Linked DNA regions of Homo sapiens. The protein of the gene in region 2 interacts with the protein of the main gene of each other region in a pairwise test. Each region holds a gene or a part of one and is shown on either strand. Other genes may lie near its edges.

Region 1 (7,362 bases), on a different chromosome or scaffold from region 2:
TTCAGGGCCTTTCCAATCCTCAAATTCTCCAATTCCATTATATTCTACACCTGATAAGTAGTTAAACTGACCACCTTGAGTACCAATTCTGAGTACAATGCAAGTGGGTTTGTCCGTGTAGACCCAACACAGTGTTCTTAGTCTTGCCGTATGCTTCCAGGTAAGCAAGTTGTATGTGACGGTCAAGTTCCCAGTTCCCAGAGGGAATGGCAATGGATAATAAGGTTGACCTGAGCCATAGTGGACTTGCTCTCCTCAAGATGCTGTGTCGTAAAAATGAGCTATATTAAGATAAATCATGCTGACTTTTATTTTCCTCAAGAATACACTGCTGGCTGCTTGGATTTTTTTTTTTTTTTTTTTTTTAAACTTCAAATTTGTGTTGCTGTGAACAGCTGGGCAAGTTTTTACCCTGTCATGGAAACTATCTGGCCATTTTTGCACTGTTCTGTATGCTGGGAAGGGAGGTGAGCAGAGCTTGCCAGAAAAGAGTTCTAAGCTCAGTTTCTATGCTCTCCTGTAACTTCAGGGACTTGTGAATGTCCAGTTTGTTCCTATTTGTTGCTTTTGTATAGCATGTCGTAATCTGGCTACAACCTTCCTGGCTACCTATTTCACAGGGCTGTTGTAGGAAATTCAGAAAAAGTTTCGTGGTCCTGTTAAAAAGAGCATTCAGCAAAGAATTGAAAAGGTAAAGTTAAGTATCACCAGCATTACATTTCCTGCCTGAATTAATCTTTTCAAAGAACTCTGAGATCTGAGGCTGGCAAATTCACTAAAAAGGCAAAGAATTACTTTAGGTTATTTTTACTAAATCAGGCATCCTAAAAATACTCTTTTTTGATGCCTTGATCAAGAGAGAAGAAATTTCAGAGAGAAGAGGCATACAAATGCATCTACAGTTCTACAAGTAGCCCAATTTCAGTATCAATTTATCCACTCACTATAATAAATATTAAATATATACAATATACAAAGTATTAAGCTAGATACTATAAGGATGAAGAATTATGTAAAAGATGTTCCTATATCCTCCTGTACTACAAGTACACTGTAAGATGTAACTTTTGTTTAGATTTCCTTCCCAAATAAGCAAAGGTTTCTAGTTTCCCTGGGACAAAGAAGGTGAAAGAACAAAATAATTTTTTTTAATCTATTATGACTTTCTGGATTCATAGAAACATTTATTTTAGAACATTCAGGGAGACTTATCTGTTAGTTTCTACTGATGAGTACCAAGAGTGACTGAACTACAGAATGGCTGTGACTTCCAAAGATAACCTGATTAAATCTGACATGCACATGACATGGGGGGAGCAAGGAATCCATGTGTCCTTCAATTTCAATAAGAAGAGTTAAAATGTACTATCGAAGGAAGAAGATCACAACCGTGTGGTTTAGAAAGCAGACCAAAAACAACAGGACAGAAATATTCCAAATAACTTGGAATCCAAGTCACTTGGGTTTCCTTGAATGCCCTGCCATATTAAATCACATATGGCTCTGCAATGAAAGGAGAAGTTAAGGCCTGTCTCATGCCCCACTTCTGCCACTGACTGAGCTTGAGAAAGCAAATTCAATCTTTTAAAGTTATTCAGGGAAAGGCAGAAATGGTAGTCTGGACATATAATGAAATAAGCTTATTAATGTGGGGTAGAAGACGTCTTGAGCAATTAGCCAGTGTCCTTATCCAATTAAGTTGGAAAAGAAAGCCCCAAATTTCCTTAAAGTTTTACTGGTATTAGTTTGCTAGACTGACAGTTCCAATATATACATTCTTTGTATGTGTTTACTTTTCCCCCTAGAGTTATGGCTAAACTGAATAGAACCAAATTCCCAAGATCTGCTTCTTTCTCTTTTAATATCCTATTTTTCCAAAGCCACCGAGCTGATGTCCTTCAACAAATGGATTAAAGTAAATGCTGAGAACCAGCTCTCGTGTCCGAGCAGGGGGGAATGAAGGGTTTATACCCAAGGCAACTAGGGGCATACTCATGATGGTCAATATAACATTAAGGAAATCTGTAGTACATCAAATGATATTCTGAAGTTATGGTTCTATTCAAGCTGAACCATCTTTTGGGAAGCCAATCACAAACAAGATTGCTGTATTTGGAATTCTGACACCAAGAACGCCTAGGCAACCTCTTCACAGAAATGGAAAATAAGACTCAGCCAGCTCCATGTCCCATGGTGTAACCTCACATGCAGCACATGAACAGTTCTTAGTTATTATTACTTTTGAATGAAAAGTAGATCGACTTACATGGCTCTCTGGCAATGAACTGAGGTACAGTGTTGGGCAGAGGAGTACTGGGGTTTGGAGTCCCTACGAGTTTGTTCTTGGCCATCTTCGTGTTTGCCTTAGCAAACTCTAGTCGTAGTGTTTGCGGAATTTCAGGATCGAAGCGGATGCCCTTTGGAAACAGAGAACAAATGGAAGATGTTTTCATTTCCTTTGAGTCAAACCGGAATGGTGACAAAATAAACACACCAGTAAACCCTGGTCTATCAGGAAAAAAGGTCAGCAACCACTCTCATTCTTACTACTTACACAGGTTACATGAAAAATGACAACACAAAGTGTCCCGAAAGTCAGTGGGATTTAGTTTAGTTAAAAAATGTAGTTACACAGATTTTCAACTATTCCTTTTCTTTTTAGACAAAAACTTTTCAGTTTAAAATTTGAACCAGCAAATTCCTAGCACAGTTACACACTTTAATATATAGTAATTTCAGTTACCTCTGACCCTATTCCTGCAGTTTACCTAAAATAGATTATATTCAGTAAAACAAATCACAGACACTATGAAAGACACTAGCGCAAGACAAGTCTATTTGGAACCTTTCCACCATTCAAGAATGTCTTCATTATTAAGCATCCAATACCATGAATTCTGGACCCTACGTGTCAAAAAGATATCCCAAGAGAGTGTATTTTAAATGTGCACCCATGGGACCCACTCAGTTCCCATGTTTTCATGGTGTGGTCTGGAAAGGGACTGGAGTCCTGAAAACGAGTCTCCTAAGAACACAGTTGCCATTTAGTGTTCTGAATGTACACACATGGGCCTGAGGGCTCCAAAGCATCCCCCGCCCCCTCGCCACCATTCTTCCTAATGAGCTTGAAAAAAAATAAGAGCAGGCAGGGCGTTGTGGCTCATGCCTGTCATCCTAGCACTTTGGGAGGCCGAGGCGAGTGGATTGCCTGAGCTCGGGAGTTCAACACCAGCCTGGGCAACATGGTGAAACCCCATCTCTACTAAAATACAAAAAAAAAAAAATTAGCTGGGCGTGGCGGCATGCACCTGTAATCCCAGTTAGTTACTTGGAATGCTGAGACAGAATTGCTTGAGCCCATGAGGCAGAGGGTACAGTGAGCCAAGATCGCGCCATTGCACTCCAGCCTGGGTGACAGAGCTAGACTCTGTCTCAAAAAAAGAAATATCCACAAAAACAAGACTCTCTTACTCTAGAGACCAGGATGAACAACTCTGAACTTCACAGGCTCAGCTTCAAGTATACAAGGAAGAGCCTGTGGCTGGATGGTAATGGCATTAACAGGAAACAAGGGGGGAAGGGGAAGGAAAGAGAGGTCCTTAGGGAGGCCTAACAAAAGCCACAGAGCCCTGACCCAGAAGTCTTGGAGTGGGTGGAACTTCATGAGCATGACTCACTCATTCTGAGAAGAAACCAACTGAGGGCAGTAGCAAAAGGGATGTGGAGAATACCCTTGTGCATACCTAATCAACACCAAAAAGCGAACAGATAGTGCCTGTTCTGTGAAACATAAGAACATTTTCTTTAACTGATATTGTGTTGTATTTTTGTTTTTTAAATTTGGGAAACCTCAGTATTATTTTGAAGAAAAAGTATATAAGGAAAAACAAAAACAAAAAGCAAAGCTGCATTCTGAAGCAGGCTGGGGTGAGGTCACAAAGGACCTCACTGAGGTGGACCAACTTCCACCCTAACAAAGCTAATATTACAACAGAATTAATATTTCCAAGAATGGACCTAAGAACTGTGGTCTCTGCTGGGAGGCAAGCACAGTCCCTGGGTGTTACGTACAGGTATGCTGTAAAAGGACTTCCTCATTTGCACCACACTCCATCAGACACACATAGTAGCAACTTGCCATCAACTTCAGGACGTCCTCCCCGGCACTAAACTTGACCAACCTTCCTGTGAAGAAGCAACTTTCCTAAACCTGAGTTCACATTAACCTGAGTCCTGTGGCCCAGGCCACTGGGGATGATGTGAAGAGTATCCTGGGACCTAGTTGTGGTCTAGAGCATCTAGCCTCAGAAAATGAGGCTGCACATGTGAATTCTATGCCTCAGCTCTTTCACTGGTGTTCCAGAATCAACTGAAGCTCCACATCATGTGTTTGCCTCTTACACAACCTGGGCTGGCGGCTTGAGTCCTAAAACATGCTGAACTAAGTCTCCCCTACTCCCTGCCCCCTTCTTCATACCCGCCCCCCAATTTGAACTAAAATAACATCAACATCATGTTCCAAATCAAAGTTCCAGCATCCTTATTTAAAAAAAAAAAAAAAAAGCTCAGAAGTTAAAATGACCTAATTTGTTTGGCAGCTTATTCAGAGGCCGGAGGCTTAGAATACAAGCCACATTCCTCTAACATCTTTAGCAGCAATACCATATTTGGTAATCAATATCCTGCGCAGCTAAGTTTCCATCCATAGGGATTAGCCAAGCCAAAAACATTTTAAATGTTAAGGGATGATGAAGAGGAGAAAAAAGAGGGGCAGGAAAAGGGAGAACACAGAAACGAAGAGGGAAAAAAGAAAAAGAGGCAGATAGGAAGAAGACAAGAGAAAAAAATTCCTTGTGTTTTTAATTAAAGCCTACTAAGATTCTTCTCTGGCTACAATTACTCCACATTAAATGCTGTCAGGATAAGATTACTGCCAAGTGAAAGGGTGAACCTGTGTCTTTCAAAAGCAACCTTTTCCTCTCTTGCTCATAATTCACCGTTCTTCTCACAATGAACAGAGAACCTTTCTCTTCCAAATGTAAATGGTGTCCTATTTATTACATGGACCAGAAAGGACAGTTTCTGAATATTAGTATATTAATTTGAATATAAACAGTTACTTACAAGCACCCCAATCTGACTGGCTACTGGACAGCCAACAGTCTCTACAAATGCAGGTTCCATATAATCTACAGAGGCTGAATTCCCTACTCAGGGCAAATTCTGGGAGATCTTTAAAAGGACACTGCTGAGAAACAACATATTCTTGTTCGTCCAGTATACTTAAAAGTATACCAGGGCAGTTTCATGCCAGGGAGCCAGGGAAGGCACCAGAGGAAGTGATGAAGAGTAGAAGTTCACCAGGTGCAGTTCAGGAAAGGGCTCAGCAAATTTCTCTGTAACAGGATGCAGAAAGGGTGTTGGGGTGGGAGGGGTCAGGGGTGGGGTGGCTGAACAAGCAGACTGGGGAGAGATCACAAAGGACCTCTTATGCCATGACTGAGGACTTTGGAGTGTGTGCTCAGCTAAGCCATTAGGTTTTAAAAATGGGGGGGATAATATGATCAGCTTTATGTAGTAGGTCTGTGACCCTCAAATGTTAGCAGCATCAACTTGGAGGATTTGCTAGAGTTTCTGGTTCAGTAGCTCTGAGATGGAATCTGAAAATTTGCATTTTTAACAAGTTCAGGGTAATGCTGATGCTGTTTGTGTAGGGACCACATTTGAGAATCACAGTGATTGGCGGTAACTCTAGGGGTGGTAGGGAAGACAGACTCAATGAAGGGACTAGAACAGATCAGATATGAAACCATTAGAGCAGCCCTGGGAAGAGAAGCTGGGATGAGATGGCTACTGCCCTCTAAGCCTTCTTCTTTGGGAAGGGTACTCAGGGGCCAATGTCTGTGTTCTGTGCCCTTATTCCTCTGACCACAGCTGCCTATTTAAGGGGCAGCTGCAGCCTAAAGTGACAAAACCTGTTTTCTCTTATAAGGATTTCAACCTTGAGCCTATATAGAGACACAGAAAATGGTGTTGACCAAAGCTGAGTCACCGTAACAGCCTCTCACTAGAGAAAAAGTCTCCAAATTCCTGTCACTGAGGTCTTCAGAGCACCCTCATACCTGATACAGTCTTGGTTATGTGGTACAATAAACAGAGTACTTCAATTCTGTTAGCTTCAGGCTCCCAGTGTTGTTACAAATGGTTCTGCGCTAAAGTTAGTCCATCAGTCCTTGACAATGAGTTTTAGGGACAATGGAATGACTCATTTAGAAAAAAAATGCTTAGAAACAAAGCAGAGCTATATATACATATTGAGAAAGATGTCCATGGCTAGATTAGCCTGAAAAAAAAAAAAAAAAGATACTCAACAATGTTTGGTAGTATGGGGGTAGAGGAGACTGTATATACATCTGCATGTATACTTCTCTATCTGTGTAAGTCCAGAAAGGTTTAGAATGAGACAACCAACCAGTTAATAATAGCAGACAACTTAGTGGTAGGGGTGAGAGAGGGCACAGACTTTTGTACAATTTTGCATCATTTGAAATTTTTACAACTATGTATAATTTATAAAATCCAATACAGAATTAAAAACAAAAGGAGAGAGGTGGAATAAGGGATTTCCTACTGGGACACAGCATTCAACCAGCTATGTTTTTAAAAACTAGTTACTTTTAACAAAGAACTTTATTCTGAAATAATTTCAGACTTACAGAAAAATTGCAGACATAGTATAATTCCTATATACCCTTTGCACAGATTTCTTAGATGTTAGCATTTCACATTTATCAAACACACACACACACACACACACACACACACACACACAGTTTCCCCTGAACTGATTAAAAGTAAGTAGCAAGCATGCTATTCTTTTACCCTTTACTTCAGTTTGATTTCCTAAAAACAAGGACATCTCTTTGTTTTCCTGATCCAAGATCTAATCCAGAATCACACAGCACTTAGTTGTCATCACTTTAGTCTCCTGAAAGAGTTCTTCAGTCCTTACCTTTCATGAGCTTGATATTTTTGAAAACTACAAGCTATTTATTTTGTAGAGTAGCCCTCGATTTGGGTTTATCTAATTTTTTTTTTTTGGTTTAGATTCAGGTTACGCATTTTTTGGCAGGAAGATCAGAGATGGATGTCCTGCACAGTGCATAATATCAAGAGGCACATGATGTCACTTTTGTCCCATTACGAGTGATATTAGCTTTGATCATTTGCCAAGTTTCTCTATTGTAAAGATGCTGTTTTCCCTTTTTAAGTAGTTTCTTATAGACAGATATTTCCAGACTATATAAATATGTTGTTTTTCAAAAAAATCTACTAGTTTTAACACCTATTAATAATTATTAC
Region 2 (7,362 bases):
TCCTGAGTTCATGTGATCCACCTGCCTCAGCCTCCCAAAATGCTGGCATTATAGGCATGAGCCACCAGACCCGGCCAAAAAATTAAATTAAAAAAATGCTCCAGGCCAGGCACAGTGGCTCATGCCTGTAATCCCAGCACTTTGGGAGGCTGAAATGGGCGGATCACGAGGTCAGGAGTTTGAGACCAGCCTGATCAACATGGTGAAACCTCGTCTCTACTAGAAATACAAAAATTAGCCAGATGTGGTGGCAGGCGCCTGTAATCCCAGCTACTCAGAAGGCTGGGGCAGGAAAAACGCTTGAACCCAGGAGGTGGAGGTTGCAGTGAGCTGAGATAGTACCACTGCACTCTAGCCTGGGCAACAGAGTGAGACCTCGTTTCAAAAAAAAAAAAAAATGCTCTGGATGTACACCGAGAGGCACTGGCTAGAGGCGCCGAGCCCTTCCTCTGCAGAGAACAAAGCTTCATGGAGAGGAGGCCTGGAGGCCTGATACCAGCGTTGCAGGGAGCACACTCAGCTCCCTCATCCACTGAAGACCCTCCAGCAGAAAGAGCTAAAGCTTGCCAGGCACAATGGGTCACACCTGTAATCCCAGCACTTTGTGAGGCCGAGTTGGGTGGATCACTTGAGGTCAGGAGTTCAAGACCAGCCTGGCCAACATGATGAAACCCTGCCTCTGCTAAAAATACAAAAATTAGCTGGGCATGGTGGTGGGCACCTGTAATCCCAGCTACTTAGGAGGCTGACCCAGGAGAATCATTTAAATCTGGGAGACAGAAGTTGCAGTGAGCCGGGATCGTGCCACTGCACTCCAGCCTGGGGATTCTCGTGCCTCAGCCTCCTAAGTAGCTGGGATTACAGGCTCCCACCACCATGCCCAGCTAATTTTTTGTATTTTTTGTAGAGACAGGGTTTCACCATGTTGGCCAGGCTGGTCTCGAACTACTGACCTCAGGTGATCCACCCACCTCAGCCTCCCAAAGTGCTGGGATTACAGGCGTGAACCACCGCACCTGGCCTTATTTTTATCTTTAAGATTCATTACCAGGCCGGGTGTGGTGGTTCACGCCTGTAATCCCAGCACTTTGGGATGTCGAGGCGGGCAGATCACGAGGTCAGGAGATCGAGACCATCCTGGCTAACACAGTGAAACCCCGTCTCTACTAAAAATACAAAAAAATTAGCCCGGCGTGGTGGCGGGCGCCTGTAGTCCCAGGTACTCGGGAGGCTGAGGCAGGAGAATGGTGTGAACCCGGGAGGCAGAGCTTGCAGTGAGCCGAGATCATGCCACTGCACTCTAGCCTGGGCAAAAGAACGAGACTCCATCTCAAAAAAAAAAAAAAAAAAAAAAAAAAAAAAAAAAAGAATGGCTAAAACTTAAAAAACTGACAGTACCAAGTGTTGACAAGGCTGCAGAGCAATTGGAACTCCTGCACCCTGCTGGGGGGTGCAAAATGGTGCCCTCCCACTGCACCACTGGAGAGCCACATATTTAACTTTACAACAAACAAGACCCAGCAATTCCACTCCTAGCGATCCACAAGAAAGCACATCTCCAACCCCTCTCCCCCACTCCCAAGGCCCTAGGTTCCCTCCCAGAACCATGTCCACATACATCTGCACCCTCCTCCCCAGGCAGCACACCACCCATGCTTTTCTGCCCCTTGCTTCTGTCCCTCAATGCATCCTGCAGACGGCGCCAGTCAGGACTTGGAGTTCCTGCCACCTTTATATCAGCACACAGGGTTCCACTGCAGGGCTGTGCCCAGTCCTCAAAGACTGAGATCTAGCTTGTTTCTCATCTCCTGCCCCCACGCCTGCTCACCTGATAGTCCTTTTGCAGCAACACGGTGTGGATGAGGCTCTTGTCAAGGCACAGGGCTGCAAGCTTCCGACAGGTACGCCGGACGTTCAGAATCAGATCTGTGCTGGGGACGTGACTCAGGATGTGAAGGAGGATCTCATCAGAGAACCCTAGGAGGTGGACCCCGTCTGCCATCCCGGCTGCTGCAGGGTGCATGTCATCATCATCATTGGATATGTCCTGAAAATAAGGGGGACACCATTCCCACAGGATCCCCAAGGATGGCTGTCAGCCTAGCCTGCAGCTAGGCAGAGAAGCAAAGAGAAGCCCTTATCCATGGGAAAGAAGGTGTTTTTACTAAAACTCTCAACTGAATGACAAAGAATTCACGAAATCCTTCAAAACTCCATTATAGAGCTGTAAGCCAGGGTCTCCCTTCAAAAATGAAAGATTACAAAAAAAGATCATCATGTGTTTATTTCTTTTGTTGTGAGACAGAAGTTTCACTATTGTTGTCCAGGCTGGAGTCAATGGCGTGATCTCGGCTCACTGCAACCTCCGCCTCCCAGGCTCAAGAGATTCTCCTGCCTCAGCCTCCCAAGCAGCTGGGACTACAGACGCATGCCACTTTGTCCAGCTAATTTTTTTGGTTTTTTGTAGAGACGGGGTTTCCCTATGTTGCTCAGGCTGATTTCAAACTCCTGGGCAAGTGATCCTCCTGCCTTGGCCTCCCAAAGGGTGTTTTGTTATAATAGAGACAGGGTCTTGCTATGCTGCCCAGGCTGGTCTTGAACTCCTGGGCTCCAGCCTCCCAAAGGGCTGGGATGGCAGGTGTGAGCCACCATGCCCGGCCTCTTTTTTTTTTCTTTTTTTTTTTAGACAAGGTCTTGCTTTGTCACCCAGGGTGGAGTGCAGTGGCGCAATCTCGGTTCACTGCAACCTCCGCCTCCCGGGTTGAAGCAGTTCTCCTGGCTCAGCCTCCCAAGTACGTGGGATTACAGGCGACTGCCACCACGCCCACGCCCGGCTAATTTTTGTATTTTTAGTAGAGACGGGGTTTCACCATGTTGGCCAATCAGGTTGCAAATTCCTGACCTCAAGTGATTCATCCGCCTCAGTCTCCCAAAGTGTTGGGATTGCAGGTGTGAGCCACCATGCCCGGCTTTTTTTTTTTTTTTCTTTTGGAGAAAGAGTCTCACTCTGTGGCCCAGGCTGGAGTGCAATGGTGCGATCTTGGTTCACTGCAACCTCCACCTCGCAGGTTCAGGAGATTTTCGTGCCTCAGCCTCCTGAGTACCTGGGATTAAAGGCATGTGCCACCGTGCCCAGCTAATTTTTGTGTTTTTAGTAAAGACGGGGTTTTGCCCTGTTGGTCAGGCTGGTCTTGAACTCCTGGCTTCGAGTGATCTGCCCTCCACAACGCTAGCCTTTCAGGCAAGAGCCCTGCACCTGGCCATGCACACTTCCTTTTCCATTGCTGTAGTTCATATCTGGCAAATTACAAGGTGTTCTTCCCTAATGTGGGCCTGAGTCAAAATGCCTGATGCCTTTTTGGTTTATACGATGAAGAGGGAGAAGAGCTGGACCTAATGAGACATGAAGTCCCCAGATCGGGGACAAAGGAAGGCAGAAGGCTTTACCAAGGGGAGCCTCTCAGAGCAGCTGATCTCTGTAAAGACCACGCCGAGGAGAGAGTGCCCGGAATCATCTCCACTACATCATCTTTCTGGGGACTGTGTCTACACGACCCTCTGGCTCCAGCCTGCTCCTGCTTCCTGTACATATTTGCCTGGATGGAAGCTCTGAGTTTTGCAAAGCCAGGCTGCTACCATGGCAACCGTGAAGGCCATGGAGGAAGAGCCTATCTGCACACCCCACACGGGTATCGGAGGTTTCCTGGGAACTCTGACTGCGACAGTCCTTTCACCCTCTCCAGACAGGATTCCCATCCTGCTAAGCCCTCGCCAGGCCCTAGACAGGTGTGCTGGAATGTGTCCCACCTTTCTTCCCTGGGAACAAAGAAGTACCCTCCATCCTCCAAAAGAGAAAGCCACACGGAAACCAAAGGACATGGCCCGTAAGGACCCATGAGGCTCATGAGGGTCAGAGGTTAGACACTTACTTCTACCTTCCCTCCTAATATTTTAATAATTAGCAGAACAAGGCCGGGCATGGTGACCCACACCTGTAATCCCAGCAGTTTGGGAGGCCGAGGCGGGGAAATCACAAGGTCAAGAGATCGAGACCAGCCTGGCCAACATGGTGAAACCCCGTCTCTACTAAAAATACAAAAATTACCGGGGCATGGTGGCAGGCGCTTGTAGTCCCAGCTACTCAGGAGGCTGAGGCAGGAGAATCGCTTGAACCCCGGAGGCAGAGATTGCAGGGAGCCAAGATCACACCACTGCACTCCAGCCTGGGCAACAGAGCAAGACACTGTCTCAAAAGAAAATTAGCAAGACAGGCTGGGCACAGTGGCTCACACCTGTAATCCCAGCATTTTGGGAGGCTGAGGAGGGCAGATCACGAGGTCAGTTCTCGAGACCAGCCTGGCCAACATGGTGAAACCCTGTCTCTACTAAAAATACAAAAATTAGGCCAGACGTGGTGGCTCACGCCTGTAATCCCAGCACTTTGGGAGGCCAAGGCAGGCGGATCACGAAGTCAGTTCTCGAGACTAGCCTGGCCAACATAGTGAAACCCCATCTCTACTAAAAATACAAAAACTAGCCAGGCGTGGTGGCATATGCCTATAGTCCCAGCTACTCGGGAGGCCAAGGCAGAAGAATCACTTGAAACCGGGATGTGGAGGTTGCAGTGAGCTGAGATCGCGCCACTGCACTCCAGCCTGGTGACAGAGCAAGACTCCATCTCAAAAAAAAAAAAAGAAAGAAAAAAATACAAAAATTATCTGGGCCTGGTGGCGGGCACCTGTAATCCCAGCTACTCAGGAGGCTGAGCAGAATTACTTGAACCCAGGAGGCAGAGGTTGCGGTAAGCCGAGATCGCACCATTGCATCCAGCCTGGGCAACAGAGCGAGACTTTGTCTAAAAAAAAAAAAAAAAAAATTAGTGGGACACAGTGGCATGTGCCTGTTGTCCCAGCTACTCAAGAGGCTGAGGTGGGAGGATCGCTTCAGCTCAGGAGGTTGAGGCTGCAGTGAGCTAGGATCTTGCCACTGCACTCCAGCCTGGATGACAGAGAGAGACCTTGTCTCAAAAAAAAAAAAAGATAAATAAATAAAAATCAGATTCCTGGAACCCACCCCAGACTTGTGGGGCCCAATCCCAAAAGACAGACTCCCAAATCAGGGACAACCTTTATCAGAACCAGAGACAAACTTGATCAGAATCAGAGACAATCTTTATCAGAACCAGGGACAGTCCTTATCAAGGAATGAACTGTACCCCTCCCAATTCCCAGTTTGCAGATTTATGAAAGAATGCCATCACAGAGCTCACGTGGTAAGAATGAGAACTTAGGGCAAAACACTATTAAAAACTCCAGCACTGGGCCAGACGCTGTAATGCTGTGCTCACGCCTGTAAAACCAGCACATTCAGAGGCTGAGATGGGTGGATCACCTGAGGTCAGGAGTTTGAGACAGGCCTCGGCAACATGATGAAACCCCATCTCCACTAAAAATACAAAACTTAGCCGGGTGTGGTGGCACACGCCTATAGTCCCAGCTACTCAGGAGGCTGAGGCAGAAGAATCGCTTGAACCCGGGAGGTGAAGGTTGCAGTGAGCCGAGATCGCACCACTGCACTCCAGCCTGGGTGACAGAGTGAGACTCTGTCTCAAAAAAAAAAAAAAAAAATCCAGCATCATATAGATTCCACAGTTACACGACCACACTGAATTTTTCTTAAAACCTCATAGAAATTACAATAATTTTTTTTAAAAAGAGAGGGAGAGACAGCAGGCCAGGAATTAAGTTCCAGCTCTCTCCATCCAGCCACAGCAAATTCCACAACATCATTTTTTCCACATGCTGTGCTCCAAATAAAACAGAAATTTTGGACAGGCGCGGTGGCTCACGCCCGTAATCCCCAGCACTTTGGGAGGCCAAAGCGGGTGGATCACGAGGTCAGGAGTTCGAGACCAGCCTGGCCAATATGGTGAAACCCCATGTCTACTAAAAACACAAAAATTAGCCAGGCGTGGTGGTGGGCTACTGTCCACAGCAACTATCCAGCAACTCGGGGGGCTGAGGCAGAAGAATCGCTTGAACCTGGGAGGTGGAGTTTGCAGTGAGCTCAGATTGTGCCACTGCACTCCAGCCTGGGTGACAGAGTGAGATTCCATCTCAAAAAAAAAAAAAAAAAAGAGAAGTTTCATCTCAGGCCAGACCCCTGATGCAATTGTGGGGCCAGCACCCAACCTGGTGGGGCAGGTATCTGAGGGGTGATGCCCAGACAAGACGAGAAACTGGCCCAGGAAGCAGCTCGAATGGGCCCCCACCCCCACTCTCCATCTCCGGCCAGAGGACCCTAGGAGGCAGCTGCTGGGCGGGCGAGTTGAGTCATTTCCCTGGAACTTAGCTTCCGGAGACAACTTTGTTAAGTTAAGGCACCTTGCACCAAAAAAGGTGGCAAGCTCTGGAGAGGAAACAAAAACCAGGGTGCAGGAAGGGCGCGGTAGCTCATGCGTGTAATTCCAGCACTTTGGGAGGCTGAGGCAGGCAGATCACTTGACGTCAGGAGTTCGAGACTAGCCTGGCCAACATGGTGAAACCCCATCTCGACTAAAAATACAAAAATTAGCTGGGCGTGGTGGCAGGCGCCTGTAATGCCATCTACTCAGGAGGCTGAGGCAAGGAGAATTGCTTGAACCGAGGAGGTGGAGGTTGCAGTGAGCCAAGATCGCACCACTGCACTCCAGCCTGGGCGAAAGAGTAAGACTCTGTCTCAAAAAAAAAAAAAAAAAAAGAAAAGAAAAAAAAACCCAAGTTGCAGCCTGGGCAATGTGGCAAAACCTCGTCTCTACAAAAAAATTAAAAAATTAGTTGAGCCAGGCACGGTGGCTCACGCCTGTAATCCCAGCACTTTGGGAGGCCAAAGCAGGCAGATCACGAGGTCAGGAGTTCGAGACCAGCCTGACCAACACGGTGAAACCCCGTTTCCACTAAAAATACAAAAATTAGCCAGGCATGGTGGCACGTGCCTATAGTCAGTCCCAGCTATTCAAGAGGCAGAAGTGGGAGGATCACCTGAACCCGGGAAGTGGTGGCTTCAGTGAGCCATGATCGCGCCACTGCACTCCAGCCTGGGCAACAGAGTGAGATCCTGTCTCCAAAAAAAAAAAAAAAAAAATCTAGGTAACTGGCTGGAGGTCAAAGGCCAAGTAATGCCTCCCACAGGGCCTGGACTCCTAAGCCCAGAACCTCCCTTCCCTCCACCACCAGGAAAGGGCAGCTGAGGCTTCCAGACAGGTCCCAACCAGGCACCTCATTCCTGGGGTCTCCTGAAATTCCAATTCTGGTGTGAGTGGCAGGCCCTGGAATGTGCTTACCAGGCACACTAGGAACCACCGGCTATAATGACAACTTGAAA
Region 3 (7,362 bases), on a different chromosome or scaffold from region 2:
TGACAGTGAGTTAAGGGATGGACATCCATGACTTAGGAGAGATGATAGGCTTCATGGCTATTCTAGGAAAGAGTAGCCATGCAAAAAGGGTCATTAGAGATGATGAGACTTAGCGCATTTGATAGAGCTGGGGCAGAGTTTTATTTAATCTTGTGAGAGTCACTGGGAGCAGAAGAAAGCAGTTTTTGCGGGAACCAGCATGTGTTGGGTTTCATTTATTGGTTAGGCCAGCAGAAGACGGTAAACGTTGGTTTGGTGGTGTTGACAGATGGTGTGAAACTGGGAGGGGGTGCGCTCGACAACAAAGATGGAGAGGTGCATCCTGGGAAGTTGGCAGTGATAGGATGGGCATCTGATGCCTGGAAACATGCAGGTTTGGAGCTGGATCTTCTCGATGCAGACACTTCTGCTCTCGGGTAGTTATTTAAGAGGTTGTGTCAACCCTGTTATACCTGCAGGGTACCACTTAGTCAATGAGCACTGCAGTCCAGTGTGCCAGAAGGGCCTTCTGGTCCTTCTGATTGGAGAGATCATTTAGTGAAGCTTCCACACATTTGTTGATGTTCAGCTTGGGGATCCCTTACGCAGATAGCTGCCCCACATGGCTCCCTGGACCAAAGAAAGATCATTAGTATCTCAGAGATTGGCAGCAACTCCAATGCGAGAGAGTAAAACTCTGAAGACCCTGCGTCGTCAGTAGGCAGGGGAAAATGCGTCAGATTAAACAAGAATCTGTACTGCTGTTTAGTAGCCAGTGGCATAGAAGCCGGGGACTTCTAGTGTATTTCAGGCTCTGTAGAGGCAGGTGATGTAGCCCAGTCAAGTGGGTTTTCATGCCAGTTCTGCTGAGTGATGGTCACCAGGTAAGCACAGCTGATGGAGACTTGAAAACAGCTCTCGAATGCTAAGTGTGGAAATATTTGAGATAGAAATGGAGGAGCCGTGGTCAGAGTCGATACTGTTAATGAACGATCAGAAAAAAACCCACAAAACTGTCATAGTCTAGAATTAAGAGGAAGAACATTCTGGCTAAAGGCCAGGGCTCCTTCTGAATCTCAGATCCTTGGGGATCTGTGTTGGCTGCCCCAGGGCTGTGGCTGGGGCCGGCTCCCCAGGGCTCACCGAGAATGAACAGGAAGAACAGCCAGACCAAGTGAGAGTGATCGGCAGCTTGCTAACCCAGCCTGCTGGTGTCCCTCTCTGCTGCCCCAGGAGAGACCCCGCATCTTCCCCACACACTGCTGTGGGACTCAGGACACCTCGGGTTCAGATCCACATCTGCCCTCGGCAGCCCTGACCCTGGGCCTGTGGCTGAATATGTCTGAGTCCCTTTGTCCTAAAATGAGGTCGAGCCAGGTGTTCCTGGGGTCTTTCCCAGCCCCCAACTGAAACTGAATGCCGCGAGGCAGCCAGCCGGCCTTGGGAGGCCTCCACACAGCAGCAGTGCCAGAAATGACGACACAGGCCTCAAGCCCGCTGGACAGATCCCCCTGGCCCTGTGGTTAGCCTTGGCTTTGGCCCTTAACAGGGCAGACGTGGAGGATCTAGTTCAAAGCAGTAGCTTCGGGGCTGGGAGCAGCCCCTCCCCTGGAAACCTCTTGGGAAGCCTTCCTTCTGTGTGTTCTGAGGTGGTGGTAGCTCTGTAACAGCTCTGGGCACCTCCTGTTCTTTCTTTCCTTTGGCTTTCTTTTATTTATTTTTTATTTACAAAATAGAGATGAAGTCTCGCTGTGTTGCCCAGGCTGGTCTCGAACTCCTGGGCTCGAGCGATCCTCCTGCCTCAGCCTCCCAAAGTGCTGGGATTACAGGCGTGATCCACCGTGCCCAGCCTGTCTTTATTTTTATTTTATTTATTTGTTTTTCCAGCTTTACTGAGGTATGATTGACAAATAATGTCTGTTTGTAAAATTTCAGTCGAGTCATAGATACCAGGTAAGGCAGAGAGTGGGAGGGAGACTGAGGCCTTGGTCTGGTGTTGGGAGCACTGCAGCTCGAGTCTTGGAGTCAGGAGGGGGTTGTTGCACTTCCCTGTTCTGCTCCTTTTTCAGCTTTCTGGTTCCCTGTAGCTTCTGGAACTGATTATTTTTGTTTCTTTAATGCTGCCCTGTCTTGTAAAAGGAGAGCCATTAGCATCATTTGTTTTCAGGAGAGAAGCAGATTTGAAGGCTCAGGAACTTCCTGGGAAAGGTGACCTCTTTTGAGCCAAGAGCTTTACCCCCTAGTTTTTTGTTTTTTTTTTCTCCTGTCTACCTGGAGCTGAGAGGTTATCCCTTTCAATCCCTCTCAAGGTCCAGAATCACCAGCTAGGGTTGGGTCTGCCCCTGGAGCACAGACTCCTCCCTTGGGGACCCCAGAGCCCTTATCAGTATATCAGTAAAGGGCAAGAGAACAGAGATTGTTCAGAGCAGAGGAAAAGTGTATTTGTTCCCCAGCCCCACTCCATGAACATTCCCCTGTCTCAAAGCACATACTTAGGCCTAAGAACAGGATAGGCAGGCCAGGCACGGTGGCTTATTGCCTGTAATCCCAGTACTTTGGGAGGCTGAGGCGGGAGGATCACTTGAGGCCAGGAGTTCGAGACCAGCCAGGACAACATAGCGAGACCCTGTCTTTATATAAAAAAGAAAAAAAAGATACAAGTCTAAGAAGAGGCTGGGCAGTGTAAGTGTCCTCAGCCCCAGATATCATTTATTTGCTTATAAGCAAGAAAGAGGCGTGCCAGGGTATGAGAGTTTTAGAACAAGACTTAGCCTGTAAGTGGGAGAAGAGGGAGAACTTGGAGGGTACAGGGGCGCAGGGTGCAGAGCACTGATCAGAGAGGTGCGAGGGAAATGCAGCCACTCCATAAGGACCACGCCCTGTAGGACAGAGGCGCCCAGGTTAGCTGCATGCAGTGCAGAGGGTCCCAGGACCAGGGATCAGCTGTGAGGGACTTGGGTGGGGGGCCTGGCGGGTTAGGGACTGCCCGGCTTCCATGCTGCACACAGCTGGGAGCAATTATGCCTCTGGTTTGAGCTGTGCTGCTCCCTCTGGGTGGCCACACCACCCCCTCCCTCCGACCAATCAACCAAAGAAGTGCTTCATCTCGAGTTGGAAGTATGTCACCCCCGCCCCCCACCACCAACAAGGAAGGACCCTCTTTGTCCCTTTCCCAGTGACAAGTGTGAGTGAGCTTGGCTTTGGCTGGTTCTTCTCTAACAGGCTGACAACAGGGAGATAAACTCAGACCCAGCACCCAGGAGGTGGGAACCTCAGGGAAAGGACACCGGCTCTCCGTGTTTGAATCTGATGTTCTTTCTTTCTTCTCATGTGGCAGAGAAGAGACAGGACAATGGACGGGTGTATTACGTGAACCATAACACTCGCACGACCCAGTGGGAGGATCCCCGGACCCAGGGGTAAGGACTTGGGCTGAGAGGGGGGCCGGGCTGGGCTGGGTCTCTGTGCAGCTCCAGCACTGGGCAGGTGGCTTTGGACTGCATCGTCCCAGAGGGCTGATGTCAGGGACCTTTAGCCACACACAAGTGTCTTGAGACTCTCACCGTACAGATACACTGTTGGCCTGATGAGAGCTTAAAAGGGGTTTCTTAAATAGACCTTCCTGGTGGATGGAGGGCGGCCCGGCTGGCGGGTGTTGCTGGTCTCCATACTGATTGTGCTGGCTGCTGATAATTGGATTGCAAAAAGGTTGAGGGCATCCTGGTCTCCCAACACCCCCAAGTGAAGCTGTGCTGGGGCACAGGGTGCCTCAGGATTGCTGGTGGCTGCTCAGTCCAATGCCATCCATGCAGGGCTGGGTTTTTGGCCATGAGATAATAAGTGACCTCTCCGTGCTGCAGAACTGTTCTCACGACTTGGGTCATGCTTCTTGGGTGCATGTCCTCAAAGTCCCTCATGGGCTCTGCAGAGACAAAGCCACACTTTGAGGACCCAGCCTCCAACCACCAAGGTCCAGAAGGTGGGGCCAGCCCTTCACCCTTTTCTTCCCGTGTTTCCAGGATGATCCAGGAACCAGCTCTGCCCCCAGGATGGGAGATGAAATACACCAGCGAGGGGGTGCGATACTTTGTGGACCACAATACCCGCACCACCACCTTTAAGGATCCTCGCCCGGGGTTTGAGTCGGGGTAAGGACTTTGTGCAGGTAGCAGCAGTGTCAGGAGCCGAGGCCCAGGCTGTCCTTGTTCTGGCTCTGGGAGGCCCACTTTGGGTGGCCCCTGTGGTGCGTTCTACTGCCCTTACTGCCCTCTAGTGGCCAATGTTGATGTCATATTAAAGGGGATGGGAGGATAGCTTGAGCCCAGGAGTTTGAGACCAGCCTGGACAACATAGCGAGACCGTGTCTCCACAACAATAAAAAAGATTAACCAGGCTGAGAAAAATGGCAAGACCCCATCTCTACAAAAAAAAATTAAAAATTAGCTGGATGTGGTGGTGCATGCCTGTAGTCCCAGCTACATAGGAGGCTGAGGTGGGAGGATCCCTTGAGCTCAGGAGTTTGAGGCTGCAGTGAGCTATGATGGCACCACTGCACTCCAGCTCAGGTGACAGAGTGAGTCCCTGTTTCTAAAAAATAATAATACATTTAAAATTAGCTCGGTGTGGTAGCACACTCCTGTAGTCCTAGCTACTTGGAAAGCTAAAGCGGGAGGATCGCTTAAGACCAGGAATTCGAGGCCGCAGTGAGCCATGATCACACCACTGCACTGCAGCCTGGGTGACAGAGCAAGACCCCGTCTCTAGAAAACGAACAAACAAATAAATAAGATGGGATGGGGAGGAAGGGACTATCCTGTTTATTCCGAATGACACTAGAGTTATTTCTCTAAAAGCAAGAAGTCTGGCTTTATTTCTAGATTTTCTTTTTTATTCTTCAAGGATCTTAATGACAGTCACTTCCTCACCTTACATTACTAATCTTTAAATTAACATAGCACCAGCTTTCCTTAGGGCTGACAAAGACAAATTGTTCATTTTCTGAGAAATCGCATGAACCCCTGAACATCTTTGCTCTTCCTAGGACGAAGCAAGGTTCCCCTGGTGCTTATGACCGCAGTTTTCGGTGGAAGTATCACCAGTTCCGTTTCCTCTGCCATGTGAGTTCTGGTACTGGGGCTCCCGTGGCAGTTGGGGTTATTGAGTTATTTCAGTGTGAGTTCCCGGCACAGCAGCAGGTATCGGAATGTTTGTGTCTTAGGCGGGCGCAAGACACTTGTCTAACCCGGAGCTGGCTGTCTCTAGGAAGCTAGTTTTCATTCCTAGGGCACATGCTATTGCCTCCTGGCCCAGCAGGCTGGGGAATGCCTGTTCATACAGACAGGAGAACAGATGACCACTTGAGGCTCGATTTAAAGTTCTTTTCTTTTTTTTTTTTCAGTCAAATGCCCTACCTAGCCACGTGAAGATCAGCGTTTCCAGGCAGACGCTTTTCGAAGATTCCTTCCAACAGGTTAGATCATGGTGCCCGAAACCAGTGGCAGGCCGACGCCCTCCTCCCAGCACCCCATCTCCTATCGCGTGGCCTGTTAAACCCACACTGCAGACTTTCCAGGGCGTGAGTCTTGGTGACTGTGTCTGCTGGATATTGGGCCTTAGAGTCCCCTGTCCCTCCCGCCCCTGCCTGCTGTGGAAGGGAGAGTGGCAGGCTGGCCCGATGCTCTGTCTTCCCAGATCATGAACATGAAACCCTATGACCTGCGCCGCCGGCTCTACATCATCATGCGTGGCGAGGAGGGCCTGGACTATGGGGGCATCGCCAGGTGAGCTTGAGTGCCCCGGAAGGCTGCCCTGTACCCCGCTTCCCCAGGCTACAGCATCAATGGCCAGAAAGCTGCCTGCCCCCTGCTCACATTCCCTCCCAAAGCTCTCATGCATCTTCAGGAATGGGCACAGTGTGGCATTCAAAATACGTGAACCCGCCAGGCGCGGTGGCTCACGCCTATAATCCCAGCACTTTGGGAGGCTGAGGCAGGTGGATCACCTGAGGTCGGGGGTTCGAGACCAGCCTGACCAACATGGAGAAACCCCGTCTCTATTAAAAATACACAATTAGCTGGGCGTGGTGGTGCATGCCTGTAATCCCAGCTCCTGGGGAGGCTGAGGCGGGAGAATCGCTTGAACCTGGGAGGCAGGAGGTTGCAGTGAGCCGAGATCGTGCCATTGCACTCCATCCTGGGCAACAAGAGCGAAACTCCATCTCAAAAACAAAACAAACAAAAAAACAAAATACGTGAATCCATGTGGCCAGTCCATTGGGCCTGGAACAGGGGCCTGGGGTGCCCCACTGGGCTGGACATTAAGCCTTTAGTTACTGGGTCATGAGGCGACGGAGGACTCCTGGGAGGGGCGAGAGCTCAGTACAATGGCTCTGTTATCTACCAATGTGTCATGTTTCTGTACTTTAACAACCAGGCCAGCAGCATCTGGGCAGTTGAATATAGGGGCCATGTGGTCATCCATTAGAGTTGACCCTGGGATCCCCTCCTCTTAAGGCAGCCAGGGCAGGTGAAGTCAGGTGTCCCCGTGTGGATAAGCTGTGTCACGATCCACAGGGCCTTGAGCAGGGCTCAACTGCATGTCACATGCCTGGGGTCAGTAAAACTGTAACGGCTTATGTCACCCTAAAAAGAGTCCAAAGCATTGTCTTGCCTTCACCCTGGTCCACCCATAAAAGTTAACAGGCCCTCTGGGAAATGCTGCCTTGGACAGCAGGGCAGAAGGGCCCCGGCAGAGAGAGAGAGCGCTGTGGCCCGCAGCGACCTCTCCGCTCGAGACCTCTCCCGGTGTGGGCATGTCTTCCCGCTTGGTGTTGGGTTAACTTGCTTCTGGTCCTCTGTTCGGTGGTGGCGTTGCCTTCTGCGCTGGCCCCGTGGATGGATGTTCCTTTTTTCCGTGGTGACCTCCTCTCCAGGCTCTGCTTGGTGGGCTTCTGGTGTGGCCGCGCCCTGTGTGTGTCTCTCTCTGTGTCCTGCCAGTGGTTTTACCCTATGGTAGGTTACGTCATGCTGTTCTACCACAGGGTAGAACCACGGACAGGATACCGGGGCACCCTCTGCGTCGACGGACTCCTCGTCTGCCCAGCCACAAACAGCCCAGCAGCTGGGGACTGGCCCCCTTGGGACATCCCCTTGCTGGTTTAGCTCAAGCCCAAAAGGACTCTGAATTCATGCCTGAGGCTCGCACCCAGGGCACGGGTGTTGGTTCAGATGAATGCGTGGAAGTGTGGGAACGGGGATGGTGTTGGGGTCTGGGGGTGAAGGGAGGGCAAAGTGCAAGAGTGTTGCATAGCTGGTGGGCATGAGGTTTCTCATCTGAAGGCAGCATGGATTACATTGTCATGGATCGGGGTTGGAAATGTGTTGC

Evidence for each region. The genes of interacting proteins can lie anywhere in the genome.
Region 1: the proteins of FBXL18 (region 2) and RBPMS interact in a two-hybrid assay, tested with the Homo sapiens proteins (2 studies listed by BioGRID).
Region 3: the proteins of FBXL18 (region 2) and WWP2 interact in a two-hybrid assay, tested with the Homo sapiens proteins (3 studies listed by BioGRID and IntAct).

The regions. Positions count from the first base shown.
Region 1 is NC_000008.11:30,499,341-30,506,702, reverse strand, and holds part of RBPMS (RNA-binding protein with multiple splicing), read right to left. Parts: intron 6,171-7,362; exon of another isoform or gene 5,993-6,170; intron 5,428-5,992; exon of another isoform or gene 5,185-5,427; coding exon of another isoform or gene 5,125-5,184; intron 2,524-5,124; exon of another isoform or gene 2,418-2,523; coding exon 2,267-2,417; intron 1-2,266.
Region 2 is NC_000007.14:5,503,584-5,510,945, forward strand, and holds part of FBXL18 (F-box/LRR-repeat protein 18), read right to left. Parts: intron 2,048-7,362; coding exon 1,829-2,047; intron 1-1,828. UniProt on the Homo sapiens protein: Substrate-recognition component of the SCF (SKP1-CUL1-F-box protein)-type E3 ubiquitin ligase complex.
Region 3 is NC_000016.10:69,926,132-69,933,493, forward strand, and holds part of WWP2 (NEDD4-like E3 ubiquitin-protein ligase WWP2), read left to right. Parts: intron 1-3,316; coding exon 3,317-3,398; intron 3,399-3,998; coding exon 3,999-4,127; intron 4,128-5,020; coding exon 5,021-5,096; intron 5,097-5,377; coding exon 5,378-5,449; intron 5,450-5,670; coding exon 5,671-5,759; intron 5,760-6,949; exon of another isoform or gene 6,950-7,049; intron 7,050-7,362. UniProt on the Homo sapiens protein: E3 ubiquitin-protein ligase which accepts ubiquitin from an E2 ubiquitin-conjugating enzyme in the form of a thioester and then directly transfers the ubiquitin to targeted substrates.